Linked DNA regions of Homo sapiens: region 1 is linked to region 2. Evidence: fine-mapped QTL for protein levels in blood plasma. A gene starts in region 2. The other region holds a variant in brackets. All regions are shown on one strand. Distances are from middle to middle.

The links. A credible set is the group of variants that fine-mapping cannot tell apart. PIP is the chance, under the fine-mapping model, that this variant and not a neighbour inherited with it causes the effect. Protein levels are from antibody-based Olink assays in UK Biobank. Linkage for the fine-mapping came from a reference panel and not from the study's own genotypes, which makes the PIPs less certain.
Region 1: its variant is the best candidate, but not a certain one, in a credible set for the plasma level of the SELENOP protein (UK Biobank, PIP 0.51).

The regions. Positions count from the first base shown.
Region 1 is chr5:42,821,503-42,831,010 of GRCh38, reverse strand. No RefSeq gene overlaps it. Among named protein-coding and RNA genes, the nearest start is that of SELENOP, 14 kb to the right of the region's middle. The variant T/AT (reference allele first, on the strand shown) is at 4,916.
Region 2 is chr5:42,806,813-42,816,320 of GRCh38, reverse strand. SELENOP (selenoprotein P) reads left to right here and starts at 4,429. Exons shown (of 5, transcript NM_005410.4): 1 at 4,429-4,485; 2 at 7,955-8,170; 3 at 9,213-9,425. The coding sequence starts at 7,968. RefSeq lists an enhancer at 3,705-4,270.

The DNA.
Region 1 (9,508 bases), 15 kb before region 2:
AAAATGCAGATGTCAAACAAAAGAAGAAGAGCTAACAAGGGAGACTGAGAAGGAACAATGAGAGAAGAGAAAATAAAACCATTCAAGTATAGTGTCCCAGAAGCCGAATGAAGACACTGGTTAAGAAAAACTAAAGAGTTTATTGAGTCAGATACTGATAAGTAATCATAAGAAGATAGAAAACTGATCGTTGGAGTTAGTAACATAAAAGCCATTGGCAACTTATACAAAGGAAGACGTAGAAAGGAGTCATGAAGACAGAAACTTGAGACACTTTGCTGCAAAAGGAGTAAATGAGCTGAAGCTAGAAGGAGATGTGCTCTTAAGGAATACAAAAAAGACCAAAGACACACAGGGCAAGGTCTCCCTCCAAGCTATCATCCAGATTCTCTTCTCCAAATACCACCACAGCTTCAGTTTTTCCTATTGTCATAGCGATATGATATGAGGGAGACAGGCAGTTAGGTAGGTAGGGAGGGAAGTAGGTCGGCAGACACAAACACATGTACATTTTTAATGGGGTTTAGAGCCTCTGGTACTTGGGTAGCTGGCACTAGGTCCATTAATGGGACTCTGTAGGCACGTAAACTCACAGCAAGGCTTCTGGGACAAATGTAGCCTGCATCTTGAGAGCTGATTCCAGGAGCTCAGATAGCAAGTCAGAAAGTAGCACTGTTACTGAAAAACCAGGGGTTCAGGCTAGGTCCTGCTGCTTGCCACACAGAAAGCCAACCACTGAGATGACGATTATTGCCTAGAAAGAAGGCTTTAACTGAGTGCTGTAGCTGAGGAGATGAAAGCTCAGCCTCAAATTCATCTCCCTAACTGACTAAAACTAGGGGTTTATATAGCAAGAGAGAAATGTAACAATGTGTAAGAAAACAGAAACTACTACTTTTTTTTTTTTTGAGAGGCCTGAGGGTCCTTTCCTGAGGAAGGAACTCAGATAAAACAAATACAAGTTTCAAGCTTTAACAGCAGAAGGGGCTGGGCACAGTGGCTCACGCCTGTAATCCCAGCACTTTGGGAGGCCAAGGCAGGTGGATCACCTGAGGTCGGGAGTTTGAGACTAGCCTGACCAACATGGAGAAACCCTGTCTCTACTAAAAATACAAAATTAGCCAAATGTGGTGGCACATGCCTGTAATCCCAGCTACTCAGGAGGCTGAGGCAGGAGAATCACTTGAACCCGTGAGGCGGAGGTTGCGGTTAGCCGAGATTGCGCCATTGCACTCCAGCATCGGCAACAAGAGTGAAACTCCATCTCAAAAACAAACAAACAAACAAAACCCAACAACAATTAAAAAAAAAACAGAAGAAGGGTCAATTTCTATGTTTACCCAAAAACAACTGTCTATGAGAATATTGGGCCCATTTCAGCAGTAGAGGTCAGATATACCCATGCCCTAGGCATTACCAGGATGGGGACACTGTCTGGACCCCAGGAAGACCTATTTCTCCAAAATACTGTGAGAACTCAGTCTAAGCCAAGTCTAACCTGATGGCTTGAACTAAGGTCTGCACTGTGGCCTTCATTTTCGGTGATCTAGATCTCTGAGCTCACAAGATATTTATCCTGGTGCCACCCTAGTGAAATCAATGACACTGTAATTCCCATTACCTAGCACAGTGTGGCTGCTTAATCAATGCTCATTTATTTAGAAATAAATGAATAAATAAATGAAGGAATATAGCCAGTTTTGTTGCTTAGCATCTTTTACTATCTTATATAGATTCAGCTTTCCTGGTGTCAGTATTGTACTAAGTAATATTCTTTGTGTGAGTACGAAATAGCCAATGTGCATCCTGCAAGGGCTCAGGTATGCCAAAGCAATTGATTACAAGGCTGCTTCCTGTAGCTTTCTCCAGCCAAAAAAATAAAAATAGCCGTATAGGAACATACTGCTTTCCCTTTCTATAGGCCTCCAACCGCTAGGCATAAATTTCTTTTCAAACTTTCCAGAAAACCTTACCCTTGGACTAAGATCAAGAAAAGAAACTGCAGGCTTTTCTCAGAGAAAATGCAAAGAAGATTTGACTGAAGTCTTATGGTTACCTGGCCCCAGGCCTGAGGGGCTGTGTCTTGGCACTGACAGTGGAAGCCGAGGAAGATGGGAGCCTGCTGAAAATTGCTTCTGACAGAAAGACAATCATGAAGCTGTTTTCCCGCAGGCTGTCATGCCAACTCACAAATTCCTTAACTTAAACATACACAAACATAATCCTCATAAGACTCTTGACTCTTTTCTCATATCAGTCACTTCTTACTGTTTGTAGAGACTCTAAATTGCATTACTTTAAGGGAAAAAAATTGGCTTCCTTTTCTCAGGACACAAAACCAAGCATAATATACAATTGTGGTCACCAAGATGGTAAGACATGAATTTTGAGTCTTCCTAAATATTGAATCTGGCAACAACTTTAGAGCAACACTTTAAAATTGAGTCCGACCCCAAACTATTCTGACTCAGTGCAAAAATGGCCCCACTAGGCTTCTTTTATAAAGACATAAAATCAGCCTAAATGCCCATCGATGATAGACTGGATAAAGAAAATGTGGTGCATATACACCATGGAATACTATACTGCCATAAAAAACAATGAGATCATGTCCTTTGCAGGAACATGGATGGAGCTGGAGGCTGTTATTTTTAGCAAACTAACACAGCAACAGAAAACCATATACTTCATGTTCCCACTTATAAGTGGGAGCTAAATGATGAGAACACACGGACACATAGAGGGGAACAACAGACACTGAGGCTTATTGGAGGGTGGAGGGTGGAAGGAAGGAGAGGATCAGGAAAAATAACTAATGGACTAGGCTTAATACATGGGTGATGAAATAGTCTCTACAACAAACCCCCATGACACAAGTTTACCTGTGTAACAAACGTGCTCTTGTACCCCTGAACTTAAAAGTTAAAAAAAAGTATCTGTACTGGGTATCTGTAAGAAGAAAGCTGATGGTTGAAAAGGCAGAAGTTGGCCTTTTGAGGTTTTCTGGACTACCCATGATACACATGGCTGCTTTGCTGCCTTTCAATGCATCCCTCACTGTGCACCAAAGGAATCTTTTAAAATACAAATCTGATCATGTTACACACAAACTCCCACAAAGTCTACATGGCCTGGCATGGTGTAGCCTCTGTACATGTTTCCTATTTCATTGCTTACCTTTGGCTCCAGCTACATAGGCTTTGCTCATTTCCTTCAATCTGTCCTCCTCCCTCCTACCATGTCCTTGCACGTGCTCTTTCATCTGCCTCCAATTCCACCTGGTTAAGTTTTACACTTCTTTATAATTGCTGCTAATTTTTACCTCCCCAGGGAAGCTTTTGCCAAATTCTATGAACTGGGTGACTTCTCTATTTTTCTATTCTTTGCTATTTAACACTTACTGACATTCATTCTAGCATTGAACTATAAGCTCTATAAGGATAGCGATGTATTTTCAAGTGTTTAGAACGATATCAGCACTTAGATATTCCAGAACTACTTGTTCAGTTAAGAAAAACACACCCTAAGGACAGTGACCAAGACACTACAAACAACATGTCTTCTGTTGCTGGGATTCCCGAGGATTTTTGCCATACATCTTTTTATGTGACTTCTGGGAAACAGGAGGAAGCAAATATCATTTGGGAGAGCAGATCTATTAAAAAAGGAGCTTTTCACATAGCCATCAAATGGAGATAGAAAACAGGTCTCTAACTCTTTGAAACATTTTTTCCCTTGACTATGATGCAAATAAATTTCCAGTTCTTGTTCCTGGCCAATTTCAGCTCAACTTAGTTTAGTGAAACATAATAAATGTTTTCTGAGGACCTTTTTTTGTGGCAAGTATTATGATGGTAGCTGTAGAGTATACAAAACTGAGTAAAACACACTCTTGGCCCTTAGAAGTTCATAGCCTGGAAGTATAATTTTAAAAATACACAAATAGTAGAGGAATATGTTAAAACAATGCTCTGAAGGATCCAGGGAGGGAAGGATTTCCTGGACCACCCTATTCCTGCATCTTCGCAGGGTGGGACAAGGGGGAGGGACCTGTTGTTTTTCAGAGGCCATGTAGTACAAGTTATGCAAGTGAAGAAGTCACTACAGACAGTTTATTTTCTCTTGCAGCTTTAGGTCTATTTATAGTCCAGTTCCTGGGGTAAAAGTAGCTTATTAAAGCATTGTATTATTTGATGCATAATAAAGTTTGTATATATAGCTAATACTTCTATTAAAATGTATGTTGAATTAATAGCTTTTCAAAATCTACCATTTGATAATGTATCAATTCTATAGTAATCAAAAGCTAAGAAAAGGAAATAGAAGTTCATTACCTAGATATTTCCATTAAAAACAATCAGCTGTTTAATTCAGCTAGAGAATTTATTAGTTTTAAAGACTCTTGCCATAAAGTAAAACAAGAAATGTGAGAATACAACCTTTCAAATGTTTCCAAAGCAGTTTCAAAGTTCCTGAATACATATTTTATTTAGTGAGTAGCACCTATATGCATAGAATTCAGATAAGCATTATGGGAAAACTTAGGAAATACAAGTTTAACAGCAATACAAAAACCACATAGCAGTAGGAGAGAATTGGACTTAAGATATGTGCCCAATGAATAGTGCAAATTTTAAGTGCCATATTAAGGAGGGAGATCTCACAAAAGGGGCTTTGAGGTTTGAAATAACAATGCCAGCTAACAACCTTTATATATATATGTGTGTGTGTGTGTATATATGTATGTGTGTGTGTGTGTGTGTGTGTGTATACACATTTTAGAGATGGGGGTTTGTCATATTGACCCAGCCTGTTCTTGAACTCCTGAGCTCAAGCAATCTGCCCATCTTGGGCTACCAAAGTGCTGGGATTATGGGCCTGAGCCACCATGCCCAGTCTCTAGCTAACACTCTTA[T/AT]AAGCACTTATTCAGGCATTCTGCTAGTCATTGATGTGTGTTTTCTTATTCAACCCTCACAGTCACATACACACTGTTAGGTAACAGAAACCTGACTGAAATGGGAGAGTTCTCTGACCCTCTTATGGGACTTGCAACAGGGGTGTGGCTTGTTTGCTTGGCCACTGCACATTCAAACCCCTTAAGGGAGGGGGAGCACACAGACAGGCAGGTGCAGGAGACGGGGTGAGCGCTTTTGGGCTCTAGCCCCATGGCAGCATCTAGGGGTGTGTTACAATTAATGCTCTTTTAGCAGTTGCTGTTCGCGGATGGCTAAGTGTTAAACCAGCTCAGTGGAGAGTCAGGGTGGCAGCCTTTTACGCCCTGTCCTCTTGGTACCCGGGTCTTTGTCTAGCATCCAGGAAGAATCAGGTCCTACAGACTTGAAGGATGGTGAATACAGAGATTTTATTGAATGATGGAGGAGGCTTTCAGCAGGATGGATGGGGAGCTGGAAAGCGGATGGAGTGAGAAGATAATCTTCCCCTGGGGTTTGGCCATCCCATGGCTGATCTCTCTGACAGTCCCCAGCCGAACTCCTCTCGATGTTCAGACACTCTTTCTCCTCTCTCCTCTGCCACACTGCTCTGCTGCTCTTCTGCTCATGGAGCCTGAGGTTTGGAGTTTTTATGGGTACAGGATGGGGGTGTGGTGGGCCAGGGTGGTCCTGGAAAAGGCAACATTTGGCACGAAAACAGGAATGCCTGTTCCTATTTAGGGCTGCAGGTTTCCAGGCTTGAGGATGGGGCCTTTGCCAGGGAACCGCTCTCTTTTAACCAGTATTTCCCTGCCTCTTGTCCATATCATAATCACAGTGGCATAATGAAGTAAAGACTCATCCTTCGTCACATAATAACGTTCAGGAGTAGGCAGTCTGGGGCTGATACAAATGCGTGAGAAACCATCAAGTTTCTAGCTTCTTCTAACCTTCAGCTGCATCATGCTCAGTGTGTGTTTTTTAGCCCCATGGTTATAAAATGACTGGTCCACTTAAGGCATCGCACTGGCATCCCAGTAGAAAGACAACAAAAGCAACAAGTGCAAATAAATGGAAAACTTTCCTAAGATTTTCTAGCAGACTTCAGATTTCCACTCCATCTCGTTGGTTAGAACGATATCACATGGACACCCAGTGGCATAACTGGTTGAGAAATGAAGGCTTTTTGTTTTTCTTTCATCTGACAACATAGCTGCCTAAAAAGCTATGGAGTTGGATATTGGTGAAGAAGGAAGGAAATTGACATCAAATAGACATTTAGCAGTGCCACCACAGATGAGTACTACTATTATTCTCGTTTTGCCTGAGGAAACCTAGACATTGAGAGTTAAGTAACCTGCCCAAGGTCATCTAGTTAATATGTAGAAAAGCCGGATACAAACACAGGCAATCTGATTTCCAGAGCCTGAACTTTTAACTCTGTGCTAGGATTTGAATCTGAGAGTAGAAGGAAAGGCAATTTGTGACAGGAAGATAGTGTTAACAAAGGTGCAGTGCGTGTGTGCATGTGTACGTGTGTGCATGTGTACGTGTGCACATGTGTATGTGTGTACATGTGCATGCATGTACATTGGAACCCTAGATGCTGATCATGTGTGAGAGAGGCCCTGAGGCTGGAATAAAGGAGCCATGCTGAGGAGTGGAGGGAAGTCAGGTGGGAAGGAGATCTGGATTTATACCATCTGCCTGGGTAAGCCTTCAGGAACATGAACTGCGTCGGTCCTGAAATTGAAATAATGACAATATATATGCAAATATTGTCAAGAAGGCATGAGGAGATGCCAAATATGAGCAGAGCCAGAACCCAGGGTGTGGTAAATCAAAAGTTGAAGCTGGAACATCCTAAGAAGCAGTAGCCAAGGTTTGGTCCAGGATGTTCTGCAGTCAGATGTGTCCAGCAGTCAAAGATATATGAGCTGGAGGCCAGGGTCTGATGGTTTGGAGTTAGAGTTGGGGAATTAGAATCCTGGAATATTACATACCTAGGTTCTTGTTTGTTTTATGGCAGTACATCCCAGCACTTTAGGAATATTATTGGCCCATTACTTAGCACTAGTTTTTAACTCTTATAGTTAAACGCTGTAACATTTAAGAGGATAAGATGACCCCAGACTATGAGAGCACAAAAGAAACAGTTGTTTTCCATGGAAACATGTTACTTTTAAATATTAGCTTTACCTTTGTTATCTCACAGGGTAAGTGGAGTGGGAACATACAAAAATAGGTAGAATTAAAAAGGAAGGAGCTGTGCAAAGTGATGAACCACATCAGCTTTGGATTATATATTTTTCAGTGTCTTTGTTGAGTACAGAGCTTGCACCAAGAGATGTCAGATTAGTGTAAGGAGACCATTACTTAGAATATGTGAGGCTCAGCAAGAGAACATGGCCCCACTCTGAGTGGTGGGCTTTCTGACCTGGTAGTGTTCAAACAGAGGCTAGAAGATTGTTGAGGAGAGAGATTTCAAAATTGCTTTCTGGATAAAGTTTGACTAAAAGGATTTCAAATCTGCATTTCATAATTGTACAGTATGCCCATCTGAAATCGATCAGAATTGTAATCTCCAAAAAGCAATCTGAATCTGCAAAGCCTTTCCTATTGCTTGCAGACTCAGCAGCCCTGAGTCTGCTGCTAGTCAAGTAGTAGGAAAAGTTGTGCAAAGCCTTTGTCCTCCTCACTCTAGTTTCTTCTTTGTCCAGTTGAAAAAGACTAGCAAATGAGGTCTTTTGAAGAATAGTTATAATGACTATTCTCCAGCAACCACGAGAATGGAATTCAACTTAAGGTGTTATGCATTTATTTAAATGTACCAAGCCTCAGCATGCATGTGTCTAGCCTTTATATACATGCATATATAAATGTGTGTCTGTGTGTATATATATATATATATATTTGTATGTACATACACACTTATCCACATTTATGATGAAAAATAAATTCATGTTTATTGTTGCAGTTAAACTCTGGAGCTCTGAAACCATTGGGTTTGAATCCCAGCTCCTCTATCTTTTAGCTGTGAATATAGGTCAAGTTACTTAACATCTTCGTACCTATTTTCTCACAGGGTAAAGACTATTGTGATGATTAAATGTGTTATTTATTACCTATAAAAGACAGAATATGACTGGAATATAGTAAACATCCAATAAATGATAGCTATTATTATTCTAGACTTTCTAGAAAATACATAAAAATAAAAAGAAGAACTAAAAATCATGTTTATTCTGAAGGGGAACCACTGTTAATTCTGAGCATATCTTCCCAGTCTTTGTTCATGTGCTTGTCTTCTGTTTACTCTCACTCTGGAGTCATGCTCCAGGGCCTAGGTTTCCAATGCACATGCATGCACACATACACATGCACATACACAGAAATATACGTGCACACATGATTTTATGCTTCTTGTAAAAGTTAGAATATGTACCTTAAAGATTAGTATAGGGGAAAAGGGAAAACTTCCCCTTTGCCTTCCGAAGATTTGCAGAAAATCACTGATAAGATGCATATTAATAGGAGAAAAGGCATACATATTTATTAATGTGTACATGGGAGCCTTTAAAATTAAGACCCAAAGATACAGGGGAAATTGTCCATTTTTATGTTTAGGTTTAACAAAGTATGGGCAGCAAGTAGAAACATGATTGGACAAAAAATATGATCTAATGTTAATAGACTGAGTGGGGAAACTCAGAAAGGTCTGTCTGTCTAGATTTTTCTTCGCCTCTCTGAGCATGTATTCCTTTTTTTGGATATGGCACAGGGCCCTCTCTGGAATGGGGGTCTTATGACCTATAATCAAACAAGATAAGTCTAGTTATCTAATTTTTTAGTGGCCAGTTTTTGTGCAGTTATAGTGGAGGGAAAGTTAGAGTAAAATTTTTAGATTTTATGGCTGGCTTTGGGTAAAGGGGTTCTAGTTTCTATGACCCACCTTGAGTAAGACAGATTCTAGTTTTTATGGCTAGCCTTGAGAGAGAATGGGATTGAGAGATAGTAGGGTAGGAGAAGGTCAGAGAAAAATTTCTGTTTTGAGGCTGCTTCTGCGGCCTTCATTTTGGGTATGTTTTTCTGAGTCCCAACATTAGACAATCCTACACAAATATGTATTCAGGACTAAGGTCATGGCTTGTTTTAATAGTTATAACTCTTAAATGACAATTGAGTCATTTTTCAAAGAGAATAAATATTTTGCCATTTTTTCATTAATTCTCGGATCAGCGAAAGTATATATTCTAAATTTGATTGCTTTATTTAAATATTTATATTTTTCAGTTACATAAACATGGAAAACTGTAAAATAAAAATGAATGTCTTATTTACAAAATCTTTGCTTCAGTTAGAAAGGGAAAATGAGTATACACATTACAGACCATTCATAGAATAAAATAATGTGCATTTTAAAAAGAATGAGGTAACTCTATACACACTGACACAGAAGAATGTCTATGACGGGGAAAGATTTCCATGATGCTTAAATTAAAAGCATTGTGGAATAATAAATAGAGAATGACCGTCTTTATACATAGTGTTTTAAAATTTTTTTTAGCTCATCAGCT
Region 2 (9,508 bases):
TAAAGGACAAGTGCCACTCTAGTTATTCGGCAGAGTGCCCAGTAAAGGTCCACCACAATACCACCACACATCTGCTCAGGGATGAACAAGGGAAGACAGATTGATAAGCTCTTGAAAATTCTTAAGCTCACTGCATCCCTTCAGGTCTACAAGGAATGCTAAGTCTCCTCCCTGCTGTGAGAGACAAGAAGTGAACTTAGTGTTGGGAGACGGAAGCTGGATGGCCCTCGGGGGCTGACTGGCAGGGACTTCGGGATATAGCAGAGAGAGCTTGGCATGACTTATTACTCCTGGCTGCAGAATCCTGGAAAAGAGCTACATGCAGCCCACACCTGGTCAACTGAAGGACCACCTTAGTGGAAGGGGGACAATCAGGGCCTCTGGCCTGCCATGTGCACAAGCATAACAATTGCTTTTGTTTAATGTGCAGATGGAATATTTGATCCATTCCAACCAGGCATTTGCATCTTGGTATGCTGTCTTAATTGCCAAAGTTTGTTTTAAGTCTTCAACTTCTATGATCCTCTAGTAAAATGAATGTTTCCTTCAGCACCAATTTTTATTAGTTTTTAAATCAAAGAAAGCTAAACACCATTTTATATTTAATAATGCTTCTTGTATGATTTCTATACCAGATGAGTTAAGTTTTACCTTTTTATTAGTGTGTTATTAATGTTAAACTTAATTTTAATAAAACCTTGTAGACATATTTATCCAATTTTTTATGTTTGACCATAAGGTAAGATTTTATAGACTCTTTTTAATCTTTTATAATTTTTGTTAAAGAGCAAGTTGATGCTTTAAGAAAAACCTGTTGCATTTTTACTTTAATGTCCAGTTCACAGAAAAACTGGATGATACCTTTTTAACTTTAGCTAATATGTTTACCCACAGAATTTTCTTTAAAATTAATATTTTAAAACTTGCTTAAACTGTTAAAACAATAATTTTTTTAACCTTTTAATGTAGGTAAAAATTAATTCTTATGCCTCCTTATAATTTTTTTTACCAAAGTTATATTTTACTTTTCTTATACACCTTGTACATAAACAGTTTCTTTAATAGTACTCAGGAGGCCTTATTACTTTTAAATTATACAACATTTTTTGCATAAAAATTTTTTTATAACATTTTCTTTTACGACTTTCGCAGACAATTTTTTAACATGTCTCAACTTTCTGACTTATTACAAACAGTGTTTTTTTTTTAACAACCAGTTAATTTATTTTAGGAGAAGAATTTACCTTATAACACTCTTTTTACATAAATTCTGCCTCCCCCCCTTTTTTTTTTCCTGTTTTTTTTTTAAGATAACCATTCCTTTTTTTTTTTTTTAAAGCGAACTTTCTTTATGTCTTTGGACTAGACAGTCTAAGGCCACAAGATTAGAAGTTACCATAATACATGTTACACTGTTAACTTTTAGCAAACTTCACTTTTGTTGAAAACCTTGTAAGTTTGGGATTTCAATTATCCTTTGCTATTAATAAGACCTTGTTTAGTCTAAATTAACTTAGAATTGGTATAGATGGCCTCTTTTTCTCTCTGCTGGTCTTTCCTTGCCTCTGCCAGCCGCTTATGCTGCTGTTCTCTTAACTACTGTAGCGGGGAAGGGGGTCTAAAAGCAGCTGTAATTGTCTATGTACTGAAACTGGTCTGGGTGCCTTGGCTTACAGGTTACCTTGTGTCATACCTTTGAAACAAAGGACCTGTCCAGGCTTCCTTCTGATGGCCAACCCACCTCTAATGCTGGCCAGTCTATTTCACACAAAGTTCTAAGTTTTCCTGGTGTCACAGTAACACCGTAATCTCCCTTAAATTCTTTCTTGAAAATTTTCTTTTAACATAGTTCCTAGTGGGGTGGGCTTATTTGTGCCTGACCCATGTTTTTTTTCCGAGACAAAATACCACGCTCACACCACACACACTCACCACAAGAAAAAGAACGGGTAAAGAGGCTGCACACACACTTTTACCGTTTATACCAAACCAAAATCACGAAATTCAAAATCCGAGTACCAAAAAATTCAAGCCAAGTCAAAATCAAAACCAAAGTATCCAGCAATTCAAGTCAAGTCAAAACCAGAACAAAAGTGCCAATGCAGGCACGCTGTGGGTGATCAGGCCACACTTCCACTCAGATGGAGTGGGGCAAGTTCCAAAGACTAGTCTTACCAAGTCAAGCCAAGTCAAAACCAGAACAAAAGTGCCAATGCAGGCACGCTGTGGGTGATCAGGCCACACTTCCACTCAGATGGAGTGGGGCAAGTTCCAAAGACTAGTCTTACCAAGTCAAGCCAAGTCAAAACCAGAACAAAAGTGCCAATACAGGCACGCCGTGGGTGATCAGGCCACACTTCCACTCAGATGGAGTGGGGCAAGTTCCAAAGACTAGTCTTACCAAGTTTCAGATGTCGCGACTCCAAGTGCCAGTTCTTTCCGGTGTTCAGCCACCGTGTTAATCCTCTGCAGGGGCCTGCTATGCGCTGCTCTGGCAAGGCATTCCACCGGGGCAATTTCCTACCCGGGAGCGTTCTTTGGATCGCGTCACTCAGGCTGACTGGAGTCCCCTGCAGGGACGCTCCACAGGACAGGCCTAAGCCGCCTAACGGGTTAGCTCTGCCGTCTATGTCTATCAGTTACCTCGTTTCCTGGTCAGGGAACCAAGAAATGTAGCAGGACGAGCTGCAGACAAAACCTTTCAGACACTGAGTTGTAGAAAGAAGGGCTTTATTCAGCTGGGAGCGTGGGCAAGCCACTGCCTTAAAATCCGAGCTCCCCGAGTGCACAATTTCTGTCCCTTTTAAAGGCTCACAATACTAAAGATTTCACATGTAAGGGTTGTGATTGATTGGAGCAAGCAAGGGGTACATGACAAGGGCTGCGTGCACCGGTGGTCAGAGAGAAACAGAACAGGGCAGGGAGTTTCACAGTGTTCTTCTGTACAATGTCTGGAATCTATGAATAACATCGGTTTCGAAGTTATGAATTGATTTTTAACTACTGGGTTTAGGCCAGGCAGGCCCAGGCCTGGTTTGGGCCTGGCACCGGGCTGCCTGTCTTTGATTTCACATCCTTGTTTTTTTTTTTCCTTAAAACAGGTACTGAGTATAAAACAATATGAGAGGGTCTCTCTCTTTCCTCAATATGACTACTTAAATTGGTCAAGGAAATGAACTACAGGGAGGAATATCTGCTTTGTACAAAGATTTTTTTAATGACACTCTTTAAAAAAATGATTATGTATATGTGCATTTTAACTGGATTCTCAAAGAGATATGGGACCCCAAAAGGCAAGTAACAACTGCTCAGGGCAAGTAAAGAGAACTTGGATTTCAAATGGTAACCTCCTAATTTGATAGGAAGTTTCTTGAAAGGAAGGATAACATCTGAGTCTCTTTGTAGTTCCTGCACCTTGTACAACAGTATTCAGCATACAGCAATCAGTGGGGGATTATTTGGAAAAAAATTAATTGATGAAAAAAGCAAGGCCTACTCGAAAACCATTGCTATCTAGGAATGACATCATTTGACATTGCTCCTTACCTCACCTACAGTGAGCATGCCAACTTACAAGCGTTACCAGAAAGAAAATACCCTCTTCTGAAATAGTAGGAATTAGCTATTTCATTTGTACATCTTGAAATTTCCACACTCTTTCCATGTCCAACTACTACCTTTAATTTTTATTTTTATGGTATTCACATTTGTAAAGATTTTATATTCGATCCTCAAAAAATTCTGGGGATGCATAGGTCTTCCAGGAAGTACGACTTCAGTGACAATAAAAATGAGGTCTGATTTCCCTCAGATAGGAAGTCTATTTTTCTATTTCCTTAAATTAACAAGAAAAGAGCAGTGGTCCTGTGAAATCCCATATGAATTCAAGTTATAAACATAGAACACAATCGACGTGTAAGTCTGTAACAACAGGAGACCAGAGTAACTTGTAACAGCAGGTGACTTTTCTAACAAAGGTCACACTGTGTGGGCTAAGCTAGCACCTCATCACTGCAAGAAGCAAAACAAAAGGAAAAAAAAGCTTCTCTCTCTCTTTTTTTTTTTTTTTTAAAGCAGCAGCATAATTCGCTGGCTCAGCAAATGTTTTTCCCTGTTATAGTTTGGGAAAGAAGGCAACTTGGAGGCCTTGTTTACCCTTAGCCCTTCCTCCCGCCCCCGACTGTACCATTAAATCCTAGATTCTAGGGTGACTGAAAAGGATAGGGAATAAATTAGTAATTGTCAAAATGTTTTCCCCATATTATGCATGGCAGCACTTGCTACTTTCTTTTAAGTTGATAACAATCAGCTCAGGGGTTTGCTCTGCTTGCAAGGTCACTGCAAGAATGAACATTGAACTTTGGACTATACCTGAGGGGTGAGGTAAACAACAGGACTATAAATATCAGAGTGTGCTGCTGTGGCTTTGTGGAGCTGCCAGAGTAAAGCAAAGAGAAAGGAAGCAGGCCCGTTGGAAGTGGTTGTGTAAGTAGGAACTTCGTGTTTTCTGATACTTTATTCTTTTAAAGTTTGGTAAATATTTTTTGAGTCTGATAAATTGTTTTTTTCCATAGAATAGATTCAGAAAACTGGTGGATAGAGGAAATAAAAATAATAAAAGAGAAAAAGAATAAGAAGAGTCTGAACTTAGGTGTGGTAGGTGAAGTTCCCAGTGCGCACATTTGTCAGTTCTTGATTTCTGCCCTGTCTTCTGCACAGCTGAGAGCAGAGGAAGCTGGAGAAATCCAAACCTTTTATTCTATAATCTGTTGTGATGTTACATAGGCAGTATTATATGTTCAAATTTAAATATTTTCCACTGAAGGGCAGAGTAAGAACAAACAGGGAAAAAACCCAGCCATTTGGATTTGAAGAGCAGACACTGAAATATGCTCATTCTAGTGTTGTAGAAATGTCCAGGGATATTGTGAGCAGTTTCAGAAGAAAAAGTGGTGGAATGGGGTACAGTAGGTTCAGTCCACAGTGCAGAAGTGGTCACCCTTAAAGAAGCTAAAACCCATGTCAACAATTAGGTGGTCTGTGATTAAATGCAAACTTTTGTATTTTAAATGGTGAATGAGAGCATTCAGGTGAATTAGGGGCTTTCAGATGCTGGCCTAAAGTTCAGAGGTGGAGGACAGAGAAAGTTTGTACATATCCTGCTTTTTAATGAGTAATTTTAAATAAATGTAGGTCTGAATGTGGCCATGAAATTTAAGTTTCGCAATTGAAAAGTGGTGACATAGTGAAATTTACAACTACTTTTCAATTCTTATTGGATCAGCTTCCAGGAAACCCAATTTTGTTATTTATCTTCATTATTTTTATATAGCTGTCTGACAACTATAATTATCAAAGGTTTACGGTGTAAGAAATAATTTTAAGAAAACAAAATTGAGCAGCCTGTTGATTATAATGACAGAAGAAATCCGAAAGTGTGAACTCTTAAGCTACAACTCTCTGCCAATGGGTTATTTTTTCATCATAAACCTAAATGAGGGAAATGAGTGAAACAGTCTTTTCATTTGTATTCACCATTCAGCTACTTGCAATATGTGCTCTGGGCTGGACGCGGTGGCTCACGCTTGTAATCCCAGCACTTTGGGAGGCCAAGGCAGGCGGATCACGAGGTGAGGAGTGTAAGACCAGCCTGGCCAACATGGTGAAACCCCGTCTCTACTAAAAATAAAAAAATTAGCAGGACGTGGTGGCGAGAGCCTGTAATCCCAGCTACTTGGGAGGGTGAGGTAGGAGAATTGCTTGAACCCGGGAGGCGAAGTTTGCAGTGAGCTGAGATTGCGCCATTGCACTCCAGCCTGGGTAACAGAGCAAGACTCCGTCTCAAAAAATAAATAAATAAATAAATAGATAAATAAATATGTGCTCTGTGGCAAAGTGAAAAAACCAAGTGCTGATTTTTTGCCAAGGTTCTGTAACTACTGAATTTGTGGTCTAGGAAACAGAGAAAACCTAGCCTTTCTATTAAGAAATAAAACAGCTTGAATTATTTTTATGTTTTCTTTGGCATCTTAGTGCATAAACAAAAATAGTTGGCGGCTATAGTTATTACAAGGTGATCTATCTAAAAACTCTCAATATATTGCAGTAGCTAAGATGTAGCTTAGGATTTGACAGAACTAGTTTTAATCCAGTCTCTTTTGTGACTGACTTTCTCTCTGTGTGATCATAGACAAGTTACCTAAACTCTTAGCCATGGTTTTTCTCAACTGCAAAAGGGGATAATGGTCACATAATTGTTTTAAGGATTAACTGACATGATATATAAAAGTGCTTAGTGCCACCTGAATATATTTGTATAAAAGTTAAATAAACATTAGCTATAATAAGGATAATTGTATTATCATTGTAAATACCATTCTAGAGGAATTTTCTAGAAACAGTCCAAATATATCTTCTTCTTCTTCTTAAAATATTAGAATATTTTAAATATTAAAATAAGTAGTTGGAGTGGCCTTAAATAAGTAAGTTAATTTGTCCTCTCTCTCTACCTCTCTCACCTCACTCTCTCTAGTTAAGTTCTTATCAAGATATCATATATAGGTAAGAGTTTTGATGTGTTAAATAATGTGAAAGACAATCAGGGTTAAAAATTCTATCTATATCTACCAGTGCATTAAAGCCCAGATCAATCTGATTTTAACTTTTCTATTCTTCTCTTAATTCTGGGCTCACTCTAAGTAATTTACCATTAGCTCCCCACCTCCAAAGAAATGCATCTGCTTTTAAAAATTTCAAATCAGTGCTTGAAAATATATTGATTTCCCAGTTTTCAAATTTTGTCCTGATCTCTCCCCACAGATTCTTACATCAAAATGAGCCTGAATTACTTGTGAGGATTTTTCTTTGCTCCTCTCTGCTGAATGTGTTCCTTTTTCTTTATCACCTGTCTACAGTTCACCTGTTTTTGAACATTTCTGTTTAGAGAGCTAGCCCTAGTTTTGAGGATATTTCTAGTCAGGTATTTAAAAGCATTTTAATTTCGTTGCTCAGAGGAAGCATCTTTTTACCAAAGAAAGTGCTGTCTAGTCATAGGAATTTTCTAGTCATAGGAACTTTCCAATAAATAGGCTAATTGAGTGTGGATTTCAAAGAGTCTTAAATGGTAGAGGGGGCAGATGTGTGATATTTCTACTTGGTTAGATACATACAGCCAGACTTCAAGGAATAAGAGAAACAAAAGGGAGCCATACCCAAGAGATAAATATAGAATGTTTGAACTTGAAGAGCTAAGGGCCCGACATGAGCCACATTCATGTTGGTATACTGTCTTTTCTGCCATCATCTTTTTTCCTTGGTTCTCTTTTTTTGCTGGCTCTTTTCATTTCTGTGCAGAATGCTCTATTTATCCCTTTCTTCTTCTTCTTTTGTTTTTTTTTTTTTGAGACAGAGTCTCGTTCTGTCGCCCAGGCTGGAGTGCAGGGGCGCGATCTCAGCTCACTGCAAGCTCCACCGCCCGGGTTCACACCATTCTCCTGCCTCAGCCTCCTGAGTAGCTGGGACTACAGGTGTCTGCCACCAAGCCTGGCTAATTTTTTTTTTTTTTTTGTATAATTTTAGTAGAGAAGGGGTTTCACCGTGTTAGCCAGGATGGTCTCGATCTCCTGACATCGTGATCTGCCAGCCTCGGCCTCCCAAAGTGCTGGGATTACAGGCGTGAGCCACCACACCCGGCCTATCCCTTTCTTCTTGGAGGATAGAAAGAACAGTCAGAACTTGGTGTGTCTCAAACAAAAGTTAGGTTGTGTTTGCAGAATGTTACATAAGTCACAGACTTATTTTTATAAGCCACAGTCTGAACATAACTTTCTGGAGACAGAATTCATGGGCTAGGTATTTTTAGGAAGTGGAATTATGTCTGCAGGATTTATAGAAATTCATAGTTAGGACTGTGAAGTTAACTATGAAGAAGAGTGACAGGTTTTCTCTTTTACAGGACAACCCCAGCAATGTGGAGAAGCCTGGGGCTTGCCCTGGCTCTCTGTCTCCTCCCATCGGGAGGAACAGAGAGCCAGGACCAAAGCTCCTTATGTAAGCAACCCCCAGCCTGGAGCATAAGAGATCAAGATCCAATGCTAAACTCCAATGGTTCAGTGACTGTGGTTGCTCTTCTTCAAGCCAGCTGATACCTGTGCATACTGCAGGCATCTAAGTAAGACAGTCTTTCTGTGGCTTAAAATACCTTAAGGGGAAGGCTATTAAATACACACACGCATATAGACATAAAATAAAAGTGTAAATAATGTATTAAGTCACACTTTTAGAAAAACTATGTGTTTGCATAGAACATATTAGAAGAGAGAAACTAGGATGATACACACCAAAATGTTTACAGTGGGTTTCCTAGGGTTATGGAAATTTTTTCTTCTTTTTGTGCACCTATATTTTATAACTTCCTACTAAATATGTATTACTTGTGTAATGAAAATGCTCTAAAATGTACTTCTGCAAATAGAACAGTTACTTCAATACAAGAGGCAGAGAAGACTGTTTTGTCAGAGTAGAAAGAACACTAGGCTTGCTATCAAAGTCTTGGGTTATTTAACAAATAAATATAAAAAATATTTGTTGAGTTATTCACCAGATATTCACTGGGTGGAATTCTCCTTACAGTCATCCAGTGGTATCTGTGCAGGATTGGTTCCAGGATCCCCCTCATACACCAAAATCCATGGAGCTCAAATCCTTTATATAAAATGGCATGTATAACCTATGCATATACTTTCATATGCTTTAATCATCTCTAGATTACTTATAATACCTAACACAATGTAAATGCTATGTAAGGAATTTTTATACTGTATTTAGTGAATAATGAATGACAAGAAAAAAAGTCTACATGTTCACTACTATAGATGCAGCCATCTTTTTTTTTCCAACCATTTTTTATCTGTGGTTGGTTGAATCCATTCTACCTATAAGATACATTCAAAATATATACACTTCATCGTGCTAATTTGAGAACTAAACCAATGTTTGTTTAAGCATAAGGTTTTAATTAAGCACAAGTTTTAAGTAATTCTAAAAATGAAAGTTTTAAAATCTTTTACAGCAATATAAAGAATAGGTGCAGTATGGGTTAGTTAAAAATAAGAAGGAGAGTTTCACATAGAAAATTAAGGAAGAGGGAGAAAAACCACTAATCAAATCAAATGAGATTATTCATTTTATGTATTTCTTCCCAAATATTTTAGATTAGAAGACCTGCGAGTAAAACTGAAGAAAGAAGGATATTCTAATATTTCTTATATTGTTGTTAATCATCAAGGAATCTCTTCTCGATTAAAATACACACATCTTAAGAATAAGGTTTCAGAGCATATTCCTGTTTATCAACAAGAAGAAAACCAAACAGATGTCTGGACTCTTTTAAATGGAAGCAAAGATGACTTCCTCATATATGATAGGTTTGTACATACACACAAACACATCCCAAATTTAAAAATAACTGTTTCGTATCTATTTATTTACTTCCCATCACACATAACAA